Linked DNA regions of Homo sapiens: region 2 is linked to region 1. Evidence: fine-mapped expression QTL. Tissue or cell type: left ventricle. Region 1 holds a variant in brackets; the other region holds the start of a gene. All regions are shown on one strand. Distances are between the middles of the regions.

What was found. PIP is the estimated chance that this variant, and not a neighbour inherited with it, causes the effect.
Region 2: SDHA starts here. The variant in region 1 is fine-mapped to the expression of SDHA in left ventricle (GTEx, PIP above 0.99). The same link has a PIP of 0.9 or more in atrial appendage and tibial artery.

What each region holds. Positions count from the first base shown.
Region 1 is chr5:313,008-320,555 of GRCh38, reverse strand. The region is part of intron 3 of PDCD6-AHRR (PDCD6-AHRR readthrough (NMD candidate)); the gene reads right to left. PDCD6 (programmed cell death 6) reads right to left here. Exons shown (of 6, transcript NM_013232.4): 6 at 5,582-6,139. The coding sequence ends at 6,041. Among named protein-coding and RNA genes, the nearest start is that of AHRR, 4.9 kb to the left of the region's middle. RefSeq lists an enhancer at 1,740-2,039. The variant C/A (reference allele first, on the strand shown) is at 3,043.
Region 2 is chr5:215,017-222,564 of GRCh38, reverse strand. It overlaps SDHA (succinate dehydrogenase complex flavoprotein subunit A), which reads right to left and starts at 4,245. Exons shown (of 15, transcript NM_004168.4): 1 at 4,147-4,245. The coding sequence starts at 4,209. It overlaps CCDC127 (coiled-coil domain containing 127), which reads left to right and starts at 4,412. Exons shown (of 3, transcript NM_145265.3): 1 at 4,412-4,472; 2 at 5,706-5,836. The coding sequence starts at 5,716. RefSeq lists silencers at 3,635-3,874, 4,105-4,434 and an enhancer at 3,427-4,235.

The sequences.
Region 1 (7,548 bases):
GGCTCAGGAAAAGTCTCTTTTCCAGACACAGCTCCCAAGGTGGGGTGGGCGCAGCTGAGAAGCCCACCCTGCCCCCAAGTGGCCACCGCCCCTCCCCGGGTGTAGCTCCTGCAGGGCAGCCCAGAATTGCTGAGTTCTGCCGCTCTGTCCCCAGGGGTCACCAAGTCGGCTCTGCTCACCTCTGGTTCCTGTCGAATAGCAGAGGCTCAAAAATGTGAGCTGAGTAAATGGGCTTTTTTGGGACAGAGTCTTGCTTTGTCACCCAGGCCTGAGAGCAGTGGTGCGATCTCAGTTCACTGCAGCCTCTGCCTCCAGGGCTCAAGCGATTCTCGTGCCTCAGCCTCCCAAGTAGCTGGGATTACAGTCGCGCGCCACCACACCTGGCTAATTTTTTTTTTTTTTTAAGTAGATAGTGGTTTTGCCATCTTGGCCAGGCTGGTCTCGAACTCCTGACCTCAGGTGATCCACCCACCTCGGCTTGCCAAAGTGTTGGGATTACAGGCATGAGCCACTATGCCACTGAGACAGCCAGGAGCCCTGGGTGCACACATTTATTTTTTGATATGGAACAATGTGCAACTATATTGCTGTATTTTTAAAAATCATTAGTTTTATCTTGATCCAATTTTTGTAAAGTGAATTATGCACAGAAAATGTGTAGCTGGATAACTCTGAGGTAACAGGTGAACTTTAATTTCTTTTTACTTTTTGAAAAGTCTACAATTCCTGTAAATTTTTGCAAGAAGCACATAGTACCTTTGTGATCTGTTAAAATAAGAACCTGTGGGTAGAATGTGATGGTGGTGAGCCGCAGTCCCCCTGCATGGGAAGACAGCACCCCCATGTCTCAGGGCAAGCACGGGTTCCCTTCCACCTACCCTGTCCCACCAGAACCAACTGGAATGAGACACTTTGTTACTCTATTTCCTGGGTACAGAAGGAAACTGCTCCTCCTTCCTTCCCACTGCCCTTGACCGGCACAGGCCATCCACGCCCACCTGTCCCCTGTGCTTGTCCCCAAAGTCTCAGGTCTCTGCAGGACCTGGGGCAGCCAGTGGGACTGTGCAGAAAAAGGATGACCCTGCCGTGGGAGCCACTGCCCCTAAAGTCTCAGGGTTTAGCAGGCAGAGCCCCACGTGGAGTCCTGGAGTCTCTGGGCACCCCACCAGCACAATGGGGGATCCCTGAGCCACCTCCCGTTCAGACGGGCTATTGGGCGTGCCTCCCTCCCCACCACGAAGGTCCAGATGCAGCTGACACCCCCAGTCACAGAGTCTCCTTTCTGCCTCTGTGCTGGGGACCCTGTTCAGGAGGTCTCCTCCCTCCAGTCCGGACTTGCTGTCCCCAGTGTCATTGAACCCTCTGGCTCCCACCCACACTCCCAGCAGCTGGAGACACACCCCTTTCTCCTGGGCCACTGGTCCTCTCGGGACTCTGAACCAGAGGCGCTAACACCTGGCAGGGATGGCAGCTGGGGCAGGACTGGAAGCCTCCGAGGACCCACCCCCAGCTCCGGGTACCCCCACACTGGAGTCTGGTGCGGTGGGTCCCCAGAGCCATATGAGCTGGACTTGGCCTCCAGTGGACCGCCACATGGCAGGTGCCCACGGCCGGCTGCAGCGCCAGGCCCCTCCCAAACAGGCCCAAGTTGGCTTCACAGAAGTGTGGGGGCAAAGCTGCTCTTCATGGGCCTCCAGGAGTGGTGACTGTGACTGCCCCCTCCTGTCCTCTCCTGGCCACACCTTTGCCTCCCACAGGCAGGCCAGGTCAGGAGCCCCCAGGGCCCTGACCTCAGAGGCAGACAGGGGTGTGCTGACCCCTCGGGCCAGGCCAGGACCCCGCACAGGCGCCTGCGGCTCTCTGGCTCTCTGATGGCGGCTGGGTTTCCCGGGTTCCCCGGGTTCCCCATGACTGCTGTGTCTCCAGCGTTGATGCCTCACAGGGAGCCGCTTGGGCAGCCCTGGTCACGCCTGGGTTCCCTCTCTCTCCCACACCAGTTTCTCCCTGGTCACGCCTGGGTTCCCTCTCCCACACCAGTTTCTCCTGTAGCACAGAGAAGGACCTGGGGAATTTTGTCTTTTGTTAAAAACCACAAGGGAGCTCCCTGCTGGGCACAGTCACGGTGGCGCCCGTCAGAGCTGCTTCCAGGGTGCATTCCATCATTCCAAGTTCACTGTGCTGGAGTCAGCTCTCTGCTTGCCGCAGGGTGAGGGGGGGAGGTGGAGGGTGAGGGGGGAGGTGAAGGATTGGGGGAGGTGCAGGGTTGGGGGGAGATGCAGGGTGGGGGGAGGTAAAGGATGGGGGGAGGTGCAGGGTTGGGGGGAGATGCAGGGTGGGGGGAAATAAAGGATGGGGGGAGGTGCAGGGTTGGGGGGAGATGCAGGGTGGGAGGGAGGTAAAAGATGGGGAGAGGTGCAGGGTAAGGGTGGGAGGTGCAGGGTGCGGGGGGGAGGTGGAGGGTGAGGGGGGAGATGAAGGGAGGGGGGAGGTGAAGGATTGGGGGAGGGAAAGGATGGGGGGAGGTGCCAGGTGAGGAGGGAGGTGAAGGATGTGGGGAGGTGCAGGGTTGGGGGGAGATGCAGGGTTGGGAGTAGGTGGAGGGTGAAGGGGGGAGGTACAGGATGGGGGGAGGTGCAGGGTGAGGGGCAGGTGCAAGGTGAGAGGGGAGTTGAAGGGTTGTTGGGGGAGGTGCAGGGTTGTGGCGGGGAGGTGCAGGGTGGCTGTTGGGGGAGGTGCAGGGTTGTCCGGGGAGGTGTAGGGTTGTGGGGGGAGATCAGGGTAGGGAGGGTGGGGAGGCATGGGCCAGGGGCCCCAGGTGAGGGTGTACGGCGTGCACCTGCACCTCCATGTCTGCACTGATGACTGAGGACCCAGAGCGGGGGGAAGGAGAGGCCCCCAGAGATGGCTGTGCCCCCATGTCCTGCTGTCTTGGGTCTTGGGACCGGGGTCGTGACGCTGAGGGTCCCTGGTGGGTGGTCGTGGCCGCTGGCCTGGCCTGGCCTCCGCGACCCAGCCTCACCACACTGGGCCTGCGCCAGGCAC[C/A]TGGTCAGCTGTCCACCCCCTCCACCCCCAAACCCAGGCTCTGAAGGGTCACAGGGCACAGCCTGCCTGACAAGGGAGAGCTGAAAGGGCGAAGGCCCGTCTCTCTGTAGTCTTCTCTCTGCGGCTATAAATCCCATGGCTGTGTCGGGCAGGTCCTCCCGGTCAGTCAGCAGCTCCCGAGAGCTCCGTGGTGCAGCCGCACTGCCCCCACGTGGCCCAGGCTGTGTGCAGCTGCCTGGCCCTTGGGGCCTCAGAGTGCAGTGAGGTTTAGCTCAGGGGCTTCCCTCACCCAGGAAGGCGTGGGTGGCCTCCCTGCAGGCGCCTGAGGATGGGGTCTGTGCTGGCAGTGTGGCTGGGCAGGGGGCACGGCAGCCCTGCTTCCCTGCGGGTTGGCACCCCCTCCACAAGGAATCCACCACAACTCGTGAGCTCACTGCCCTCCAGGGACCCCCAGTTTTGTATCAGTGACTCCGGCCAGGAGAGCAGGGGAGTCCCCCCTCCACACCTTCTGCTTCGAGAGGCTCCTCACCGCCTCCCTCCCTTGACTTCTGATGGCTGGGAGCTCCCCGGGGAAATGTCCCTCCCAACAGCCACAGCCCACCAGCCCAACAGGCTCTCTGCATCCAGGGGTTCCTTTGCCAGCAGGCCGGCCTGACATGCGTTTGTCCAGCGCTCTACCCCTGCTGGTCCTCCAAGCGTGTGGTGCAGCGGCCCCACCGCCCTCCTCACCCTCTGCTGAAGAACTTCTGCTCTGGAATTTTCAGCGGCTTTTGTTCTTGTGAGTCTTCATGGAGGCCCCTCTCCAAGGCAGCCTCCCCGAGCTGCCTGCAAACAGGAGCCCCCATGGCAGCCACGTGCAGAGTACCTGAGGGTACCTGCACCACACACCTGAGTGTACCTCACACCTGTGAACCTGCCACACCTGAGCATACCAGAGACCTGAGAAACACACTTTATCTCCATCAGAGGAACCTCTCATTGCTGTGAAAAGGAAGGAAGGAAAATCATCCACAATCTGACCTTTTCTCTATGAAAGTCTCCGTCTCACCTGGCCTTCGCCTGCTTTCTAGGAGTATGGAGCTAACCGCCACACACAACATTCCTTCCCCGGCAGCTGATCCACAGGATGAGCACATCGGCCTTGGTATCAACTGTTGGCCCGTATCATCCATGGAGACATGTGCTGGGGGCAGGTGTCTCACCAGGGCTGACAGCTCCTCCAGAGTAGCAGGCTTCCCTGACCCAGGTAGGAATCCAGAGGCCAGAGAAGCTGCAGGTGTGGGGTGGGGGTTGCCCACTGCACAGGGGACAGCACGGGCAAGGGCCTGGAGACGTGGCTGGGAGGGCTGCAGGGTGGCCGCAGCAGCTGCCCTCACCCCAAGCACAGAGACCTCACAGGCCTAAGGCTGAAGGAGGAGTGAGGGCAGCTCCCAGGGTGGGGTGGGTGCAGCTACTGGACACTGAGTCCAGGTGCCCATGAGGCGAGGGAGAAGTCGCTGGGCGCCTGGCCGTGGAGGCCTGGGTGAGGAAGGCCTCATGGAATTGGGAGCTTGCGGCCTGGACAAGGAAGTTGACCTCATGGAGTAGAACTTGGGGTCATCTGCTGCAGAGTCATGGGGGTGTCAAGGTCTAGGGAGGCACCCGGCGTGGATTGCTGGGGATCCTCAGAGACTGCCCTGGGATCCCCATGACTGAGGTCATGAGGGAGCAGCCAGACCCCCAAGCCCACATCCCTCCCCCTCCCATCCCCAGGGAGCCTGGAGTGCCTGCTCCAGAGGGATTCGTATCCAGAGGGCCCCAGGCCAAGTGCAGTTGGGCAGTGGGGGAGGTCTCATCTGGAGCACAGAAGCAGCCCCAGTCCCCACCCCCCACAGCACACCTGCCCAGCTTAAGAGACTGGGGGCTTTTTCCAGGAAACCATGCTCCCTGCCCCTCACCCCTCAACACACCGAGCAGAGGTTTGAACAGATCCCAAGAGACCAAAACGAACAGAGAAAAGTCGTGCACAACTGGGTGGAAGGAGCAGGCTTTCTGAGACCAGAGGCTGCAGCCCCAAAACCAGACGCATCACTGTGGAAGGGAAGCGTCTGGAGAATGAGGCTGGGCCTCGGGAGTGTCAACCCAGGAGGGCCGGCGCTGCACAGTGAGGCAGGGAGGCGGACCGGGCAGCGCTGGCAGTGGACCGAGGTGAGCAGGATGCGCTGGGTGGACAAACGCTGCAGGCCACGTGCAGAGACTGCAGGGCACAGCATGGCTAAATCATTAATGATGGAAATGCACAACCTGCTATACCAAATTGGATTTCTTCATCCAAAAGGAGCAGTCTTATGAAATTTAACCTCCTGAACAGAGGGTGAGACAGTCCCTCTGGATTTTCACAAGCAGAGCTGTGCACGCTGGGCTGGACAATGTTCCAGAAGGTGCCCGGTACCCTGGGAGGTCCCAGGCAAGCCAGAACATCTGACACTGACTGTCTGGAGGACCAGGGCACGGGGCCTGGTTCTTGGACCTATTTGATTTGAAAAGCTGAAGGCAGACCACACGTCTAACATTCCCTTTATTGCTTACGTCACATATTCCAATGAATACAATAAACTCCTTTTTAAAAAAGTAAGGCACATGAAAAGCCTTTTGTGTAAGTTCCATGTTATTTTAAAATTCCTATTGGCTAATAAAAGCATTTGCACTATAGAACCAGAGACATCTAGAAAAGCACATGATAGATTTTTTTGCAAGCAGAATGCCTGAAACATTACATTTACCTCATGGCACAATGAGACAGTCACCAAATCCAATGTCTGCATTAGAACGATACAGCTACTATTACAGTTGCAAAACCATTAATCAGCTTATCCACATATGTACAGCTGGGTCCCCACGTGACAAAATCTAAAGGAAGAACAGCATCTAACTGCACCTGTGCTCCATTCCCTCACAGATAGGAACTGTGACATTTTGGCTCTTTCCATGTTGTGCTGCTCTTCACGAGAGGCCAGGGTCATACGATACTGAAGACCATGGACAGGTACTGTTCGTACGACACCTGAATCCAGCCGTCCTGATCCGTGTCGTAACGTCTGAATATATCCGTCAACCTCTGGGGAGAAAACAGGCATTTAAATCTCGATAGTAAATGGAAGGAGCAAGGTGCACTGGGACAAAGGCATGTAGGGACCCAATTTCAGAAGCACACACGTCTTCTGGGCTCCCTGATGGAGCCCAGCACAGGGAGGCGCAGGTGGGGCTGGAGCTGTTCACACGGACGGTGGGAGTGCGAAGAACGAAGAACACAGGGCTGCGGGGCTGGCTCCGGACATCCAGCCCTGGCTGAGCCCCTGGCTGAGCCCCTGACCCCAGGCTCTGGTCTCCTGAGTCTCCTGGGGGCCTGGGCCCTTCCTTCTCCCCCTGAAGACCGTCCCGTGGAAGCCCTCCACCCTCCAGTGGCTCGCCTCTGCTGTGGGGGCCACCTGGGGCATGTGCAGCGCAGGGGATGCCCAGCCAGATGGGCTTGTGACATCACGAGGGCTTCAGGTTCCTCCAGCCCAGCCCACCCCTCCCTCTCACAGCCGAGGGTCCAGGCCAGGTCAGCGGCAGAGACAGGGTGACCACCTACACTCCTGAAACAGGGATGGTTAAGTAAGTGACACTTCAACCGTAAAATACCCTGAAGATTCAGGCCAGCATGGTGACTCTCGCCTGTGATCCCAGCACTTTGGGGGTCCGAGGCGTGAGGATCGCTTGAGCCTGAGGGTCGAGGCTGCAGTGAGCCGTGTTCGCACCACCACACTCTGGCCTGGGTGATGGAGCAAGGGTCTGTCTCAAGAAAGAAGAAGAAAATGTGGCAGGGAAGACACAGCGTCCTCGCACATCAAGACCTGCAGGAACATGGACAGGGTGTGGTGACTCTCGCCTGGGATCCCAGCTACTCAGGAGGCCAAGGCAGAAGGATCGCTTGAGCCTCAGGGTCAAGGCTGCAGTGAGCTGTTTACACCACCACATTCCAGCTGGGGTGACAAGAGTGAGACTCCATCTCAAAGAAAAAAAAACAACCCTGCAGGAATGCCACAGCCACCACCGGGCTCCTTGACTTGGCAGAGGCTACGGCCTCACCCAACTCCAAAAGCACCGCAATGGATAATGCTGGCTTAAAGAGTAATGGGTAATTTTTCTTTCTATTTTGAATACTTTGTGTTTTTCTAGGGTTTCTAGAAGTGTTCATGTTATTTGTTAGAAAATAATTTTCAAAAAGCCTTTATCCTTTCAGAAAAAGCAGATAAATAAAAACGTTTTTGAGGGAATTTTAACTTGAGGTCTGCAGCTTTCTTTTCTTTCCCATTCCCCATCTGTCTAGCGTTTAGGGTCACTCTCCAAGGGTGGGGACAGCCTGGGAATTGGCTGTCAGGCCCTCCCCACGTGGTCTGGAGCAGGGCCTTGAGGAGGCATCTCCCAGGAGGAGCTACGCTGGCTGCAGATGTGCCTTGGAAGGCGCTGGAGAGGTCGCTGTGA
Region 2 (7,548 bases), 98 kb after region 1:
AGTTCAAGACCAGTCTGGCCAACATGGCAAAACCCCATCTCTACTAACAATTAGCTGGGCGTCGTGGCGGGCACCTGTAATCCCAGCTACTTGGGAGGCTGAGGCAGGAGAATCGCTTGAACCCAGAAGGCAGAGGCTGCAGTGAGCCTAGACTGTGCCACTGCACTCCGGCCTCGGCAACAGAGAGAGACAACGTCTCCAAAAAAAAAAAAAAGAAAAGAAAAAAAAGCTTTAGGAAATAAATGCAATCAGAAGAGGGGATGTGAGGAATGTCTTCAAGTATTTAGAAATACTTGCAATTCAGAAATTACTTATTATGTGGGATAAAAAATTATTCTTCATTTCTCCAATTTCTAGTCTCTGTTTTTATTGGTATAAGCTAATTCAGCTTTTTTCTTTTTTCAGAAAATGAATGAGAAAGAACAAATATTCTTCTACCTTAGTAAAATTTTTGCATGGTAAAATCATATTTTAAGAAAGAAGTCTTTGAAATAATTTTAATACAAATGTTCTTGAAAATGTTGTAAAGTGCCCTATTAACATAGTAATAGCACCAGTAAGAACAGTATATTATACCAAATGTAAGTAGAAACAGTGAGATCACTCAATGTTTATTCGTTCTTTCTAGGATGTTGATGTGGAAGACCCACTGCCCACCCCCCACCACACACACACAGAGCTGGCTTAAAAGGGGCAGCTACTATAACACAATCTTGAACAAATTATCACGCCATCCCCCTGGCGAAAAGGACACTAACCCTCTCAATCTAAATCTAATCTGGGGCAGATTTTTGAATTTGGAAAGCCCAACTTTAAGCCAATTTCAGTCTTTAGATAAAACTCAAAACTAGTTTTGACACAAAACTAGTCTTTTGTGCCAATTGTTAATTTTTTTAGGAGAAACTATCAAACATTTCCTCAAGAAAAAAAATGGGGAACATATAACTAAAAGGAATACTTAGACCTTGCTTAACAATACAGAATTTCAGATGACTGAATTAGGAGGTGGAGGGGAAAAGTAAGAAGTGCAGAGACATTCATATCCGAAATCTAGCAAAGTAAGGGGTCCTCATCTAATACAACGCACCTATAAATCACGAGCAAGAAACTAATCTGCATGTACAACCTACACAATCACAAAAGCAGCCAACGAAGAACCTAAAAACGCACGACTGTATCAGGAAGAAGCGGAAGCAGGGTAGTTTAAGTGAACTAAATCCCCTCTCTAGGCAAGAAGTCTAAAACTGATAAAAATGCACCTGCATATCCGCTAAAGAAACAGAGGTATTACAAATGCCAGGAGTCAGTATCAGAAACAGGAATTGCTTTCATGGAAAATGAACTGGGTGAGGGAGGGTATACTCATTGATTCTTTTACAACTGCGTGTAATTATTCTCACTAGAATTTTAGTGTTTATTATTTTAAAAACAGGGATACTTAAAATACAGTTCGGCCGGGCGTGGTGGCTCACACCTGTAATCCCAGCCCTTTGGGAGACCGAGGCGGGCGGATCACGAGGTCAGGAGATGGAGACCATTCTGGCTAACATGGTGAAACCCCGTCTCTACTAAAAACACAAAAAAATTAGCCGGGCATGATGGCAGGTGCCTGTAGTCCCAGCTACTCAGGAGGCTGAGGCAGGAGAATGGCGTGAACTCGGGAGGCAGAGCTTGCAGTGAGCCGAGATTGCGCCACTGCACTCCAGCCTGGGTGACAGAGTGAGACTCTGTCTCAAAAAAAAAAAAAAATTCAGTTCACACATGGTTACTGTGCATAGGCTGTGAGCCCTGGTTCTCAAGAGCATCACCAAAGGTTTCAAACATTACCCACAGAATCCTCACTAACCCCACGGAAAGACGGAGCTCAGAGAGGATTCAAGTCGGCCGGCCTGGCTCTGGATCCTGGACTTGCCCCCCTATCTAAAGACCCTTGGGAAAAATCTCTGAGACTCCCAACTAATATTAATATCCAGGTTTCATATCAAAAAACAAGTCACAATTTTTCAAATAAATCAGGAAAAACATCATGAGGAATGCAGAATGGAATGCCATTGTTGTTACAATTATCCCAAGAAGCAAAGCAAAGGTTTACTACTATAATGGCCTAAATAATGTATTTCTAGAACACCATTAAACATATTCAGAACAATCCATTCAAAGAAAAGAAATCAATTTGTCCTAGAACAATATATTGGATGTTCATGTTAAGGGATTTGAAAAACTTCACCTGAAGTAAGCAGTTAACCAGTAACTATTGAAGTTTCTTGGTTTTCTTTTTCCTCTGATTAAACTGCTTTCGAACAGTTTGCAAGCTGTGTCAGTGCACTGGGCCATAAAAAGAAACCAAAAGCAAAATAAGTCTGATAAGTTCGTCACTTGAAAGCAGTTGTAAATACAGAATGATCAAAACACCACAGAACTGGCCAAAATGAGGTTAAAAAATTCTCTCTGGACTTTACTGAAATTATCCTCAGCATCTATTTTCCAAACACATTTCTCAGTTGGCTATCACGAATTTCTTTCTTTTTTCTGCTAATTTTTTGATTATGCTGTTCCTTCGTAAACTCCAATTCTTCAGGAAAAAAAGCCTATCTGAAATGCCGATAAATATGCTGCTTGCAGGCAGAATTTCTGTAGGAAAAGCTAACTTCATCAAGATAAAAAGACTTTTACAAAACCCAAGACTAAATTTTGGTTCAATTTTGCTATCTTGCCATCCCGTCTGAGGTGCCTCCGCCGCTGGCAGGGTCTTAGTCTGCAGAAGGAACACCGGGCACCATCTGGGTTGAGGACAAAGGCACTAGCTCTAGCTTTTCTCCAATCACAAGCTACCATTTCCCCTAAAAAGCCCCACTGACCATGGGCTTTCCTTCCTGCTTGTGGACGCCCTCCTAGCAGCTCTTAAAAGCCCAAGATGCGGCAGGGGTCTCTGCTCAGTCAGTACCAACCACAGCAACACACTAGAACGGTTTACACGCTTTCTGATGTTGGCAGGATGGCTGTATGACTAATCCTCACATTTAACTCAACGAGATTTTTAATAAGTATTTCAAAAAGGAGAAAATTGCACAATTACAGGCATAATTCAAATCAATATTGCTGAATGCCTTGGTTCCTATTGAGATTTTTATTCTGCAATTTAAAATTACTTTGTAATTAAGGAGGTGGGTGGGTAAGTTCATTTAAAAGAACCAAACAACTAAACCTATCCAATTTAGCTTGATTAAATAAAACCCTAGAAGGCCGATTCTTAAGATGCAATCGTAGAGGGCACATTCAGACACTCAGAGAGCAAGGGCTCAGGGAAGTATAACCCTGACCACCATCCTGGACTAAGCCGAGCCCGGCCCTAGAGGCACTCAGCGCACAGGCAAGCACAGGTCCCGGCGTCCTCGCCCGGTCAGTGCGCTGAGCTCTCCGCCTGAGTTTTAAAAACTGGCACAGCTGCTTTTAAACACTGGCACATTTTTGGTGGCATAAGGACCACCAAACACGACCCAAAGTAGAAGCCCTTAACTTACAAGGTCTCGAAGTGGACATGGACAGATTTGCGCTTTCTGGAAAGGCGAACTGCAAGCCTAAGCTCGGGCGCGCCACGCTTCCCACCGGACGCCCACCGGGCCGAGCCCGGCCACTCCTCGCACCCACCCGGGCGGTCTCACCCGCCCCGCCGGCCCCACCCACGGGCTGCGGGCTGCTCCTCAGGACAACCCGCACAGAGGGCGGCAGAGGCCCAGCCCAGCCAGGGCGGCCACCGGCCGCTATCCGCCCGGGTGACCTTGGGCAGACACGACTCCTCCCCGAGTCCACCTGCCAGGCACTGAGGCGAGGGGCTACCTCAGCCCGCGGGGTCCCAGGACCCCAGGCCCGGACCAAGGCGGCGGAGGGGACGCCCAGCAAGCCCGCGGGGTTGTGACCTTCACCCGGACGCGGACTATCTACTAAGGACCGAGCTCCCCGGGTCCCCGAGTCCGCCCCGCGGCTTCCCCTCGCACCGGCCCAGGGCTCTCTCAGCCCCTTCCCGATCCCGGGACAGAGGGCGCAGGGACCCGGCGCCCGCTCCGCTCGGACCCGCTGGGGACCGTCCCGCTCCTACCGCCGCCTCGGCCCCCGCCTGCCCCGCCCCGGTCCGCGGCACGGACTCACCGCCTTGGCCAGCGCCAGGCGCCGAGCGCTCAGCAGCCGCGACAGGCCCCGGACCCCCGACATGTCTGCTGTTGCCGCCGCGCAGTCCCGCCAGTCCCTGCGCAGACTGCGCCTGCGCACCACACCGGGGTCGAGCTGGCGGGGGAGGGGGGATACCGCGCCTGCGCACCACGCCGGAGTCGAGCGGGGCTGCAGTGGGGGACATCGCGCCTGCGCACCATGCCACGCCCGGAGCGGGTACTGAGTGGGGGCGCCGCGCCTGCGCAAAGCGGACCCGCGGACGGTGGCGTTAAGGGAACGCTGAGGTCCCGCGCTCCCCGACCGAGGTAGAGCGGGCCCTGTTCCGGGGAGGTGGTGGGCACCAACATTTTTAAAGCCCCGTGGGTGGTTCTCCGGGATCGCCCAGACCGAAGGGCCTGAACGCCCAGACCGCAGGGAATGGGGTCGGAGGGGGGCGCTCGTCCGCGGAGGTGGGCGGGAGCGGCCCGGGGCCTCCGACCTCTTGTTTATTATACATCCCTTGATTAACTAAACTATTTTGTAATTGTGTGTGTTTGTGGAGGTCACATGTAAACAAACTTAAAGTGACTCTACTTTGTGAAAATGTGAAACTTCGTGTAGGTACTCAGTAAATCAGTAAATTCTTACTAACGTTAGCCCCCAGCCTAGCTATGGAGGGTGCATGCTGAGCCCGAAGCAGAGAACTCTGTAATCTCTGCATTCATCACCACCACGAGGAGGCCTCAGAAGCTTCTAGCACTGTTTGCACCTTCCCCACATCACCCCTCCCTGCCTTCCTCACAGTCTTCCTTCTGATCAGAAGACCCTTTCCTTCTTTCTCTGCCTGTCAAAATGCTGCTCACTCTTCAAACCCTAGCTCATATGAAAGTGTCCGGTGTGAGCCCACTTTTATCGAGTTGATTCTGTATCTTTGATACAACTGTATGAGGGTTCTCCAGAGACACAACAAATAGAAGGGAGACGTGAGGAATTGGTTTAAAGGTTCAATTGCTAATCTCATCCAAAAACACCCTTACAGACACGCCCAGAAATAATGCTTAACCATGTATCTGAGCACCTCATGATGCCGTCAAGTTGACAAACAAAATTAACCATCGCAGCAGCCATACATTTAAACATATTTGTACCAGAGAACTTACCTGATTCTACCTGCACTTCAGATGCTTAAGACATGTCTGTTTTCTCCACTTTCCCCAACCAGATTGTGAGTCGCTTTCATCTTAAGTTCTTGTTTTTTTTTTCCTTTTTCTTTTTCTTTTTTTTTGGGGGGGACGGAGTCTCGTTCTGTCACCAGGCTGGAGTGCAGTGGCGCGACCTCGACTCACTGCAACCTCCACCTCCCAGGTTCAAGCGATTCTCCTGCCTCAGCCTCCCGAGTAGCTGGGACTACAGGTGCCCGCCACCATGCCCGGCTCTGGTCTAGTTTTTTTCTTCTTTGAATCCCGTAGGGCCTCAGTGCTGTGCAGCAAGCACATAGTTAAAACTGAAGAAAAATTTCTTGAATAAAAGTAGTTAACGTTTTTATTCTTTACTTCAAGGTATATCTCCATGAATAACCTAAATGATCCCCCAAATTGGAATATCCGGCCTAATTCCAGGGCGGATGGTGGTGATGGAAGCAGGTGGAATTATGCCCTGTTGGTTCCAATGCTGGGATTGGCTGCTTTTCGTAAGTCATGGTTTTCTTAAAATTCGTGTTTTCCAGGCTGAGAGTGTGGAGCCCCGGTGAGGGAGGCAGCATGGTGTGGGAGCCTGAAGGCCGTGACTTTGGGACCTGCCAGGGACAGCCGAGTTTTATCCCCTGCAGTGAACCGTGGGCAAATCACTTAAGCTCTGAGCCTCAGTCTTCCTGTTCACAGGAGATGGATAATCATACTTAACCTCAGCACACTGCAAGGATTAAGTCAGCCAAGGCGTTTAGAAGCATTTTGTGTGGGGTGGGTTTTAATAACTTAGTTCCCTCTGAAGGCTTTGCTGCTCTCAAGTCGGGGAGGAGGTTCCTTATTTCAGGTGCCCTCATAAGGACTGCTGGGGAACAAAACGGGTGTAAAGGAAACCAGTGGGCTGGGCGTGGTGGCTCATACCTGTAACCCCAGCACTCTGCGAGGCCCAGGTGGGCAGATCGAGTGACCAGCCTGAGCAACACAGCAAAACCCCGTCTCTACAAAAAAATACAAAAATTAGCAAGTCGTGACGGTGCACACCTGTAGTCCCAGCTACTCAGGAGGCTGAGGTGGGAAGATCAGTGGAGCCTGGGAGGTCGAGGCTGCAGTGAGTGGAGATGGCACCACTTGCCCTCCAGCCCGAGCAACAGGGTTAAAAAAAAAAAAAAAGAAAACCAGTTTTGGAAAACCAGTGATGTTTAATGTTTAGGAAATCAGTCTTTGGGAGACTTCATCCATGAAATCTCTGCTTGGCCTGGCCAGAAAAATTCTCTCTAGTTTAGATTGACTTGGCACCACTTTGGGGACCTGCCGGTCATATGCAGACTTACATCCCCACCACACAATCAATTCACTGATGCAGAGGAGTGAGTTTTGTGTTTCTTCACATTCCATGGTTCTGGGCTGGCACTTAGGAACATGAGAAACTGAATAATTGAATGGAAGAAAGGCAAAACTGCCCTCTAGTTGTAGCGATACATTTTGTGTAGTGGCTTTTTATCTGCTTCCATGTCTCAGGTCAGAAGTTTTGCTGTAGAGGAAGAGGAGGCTGGTAAGAGCAGGTGGTTTTTATGATTCAGTGATCTGCGCAGTGCTTGCTTCTTGGTGAAAGACAGGGCAGGTCCACATCCAATCCTAAGGGGCTGCCATGTAAAAAGCTCATCCGCCTGCAGGCTTGGGAAAAAAAACCCTTAACACTTGGAGAGGCTACTGTTGCCTGTGGCTAGGGTGAGTGGATTGGAAGGCTTAAAATTACTCTGACTAATGTAATAATTAATTGGCTTTGAGGCTGGGAGAGGCCCTGAAGTGACTCATTTTCCATTTGTTTTTCAGACTCATCTCCAGCTTTTATAGCCTTTCATGATAACTTTCACTTTTGAAATTCTTACCTTCCCTTCTTGGACTTTTGAAATGATGCTTTCTGTCCCTGAAAAGGGTTGAAGAATATTTTTTTCTTCCTGGTTTTTTGCTGAGGTAGTGTGGTCAGAGAGAACTGTTAAGTTGGTGTTCTTGTAAGGATTCTCCAAAGGTGTGTTACGATGTGTTTGAGGTTCTGTTGCACATAGGAGCGTTAACCAGCCCCTAGTGTAGTCTAGAAGAAGAGGCAGACATATGAATACTTGATAAGCGCTATTGGTTGATTTATTGATGAGAGGCTAGTTTTGTCCTGATCACTCGCTTCATTTACTAGAATTTTTTTTTTTTTTCGAGACGGAGT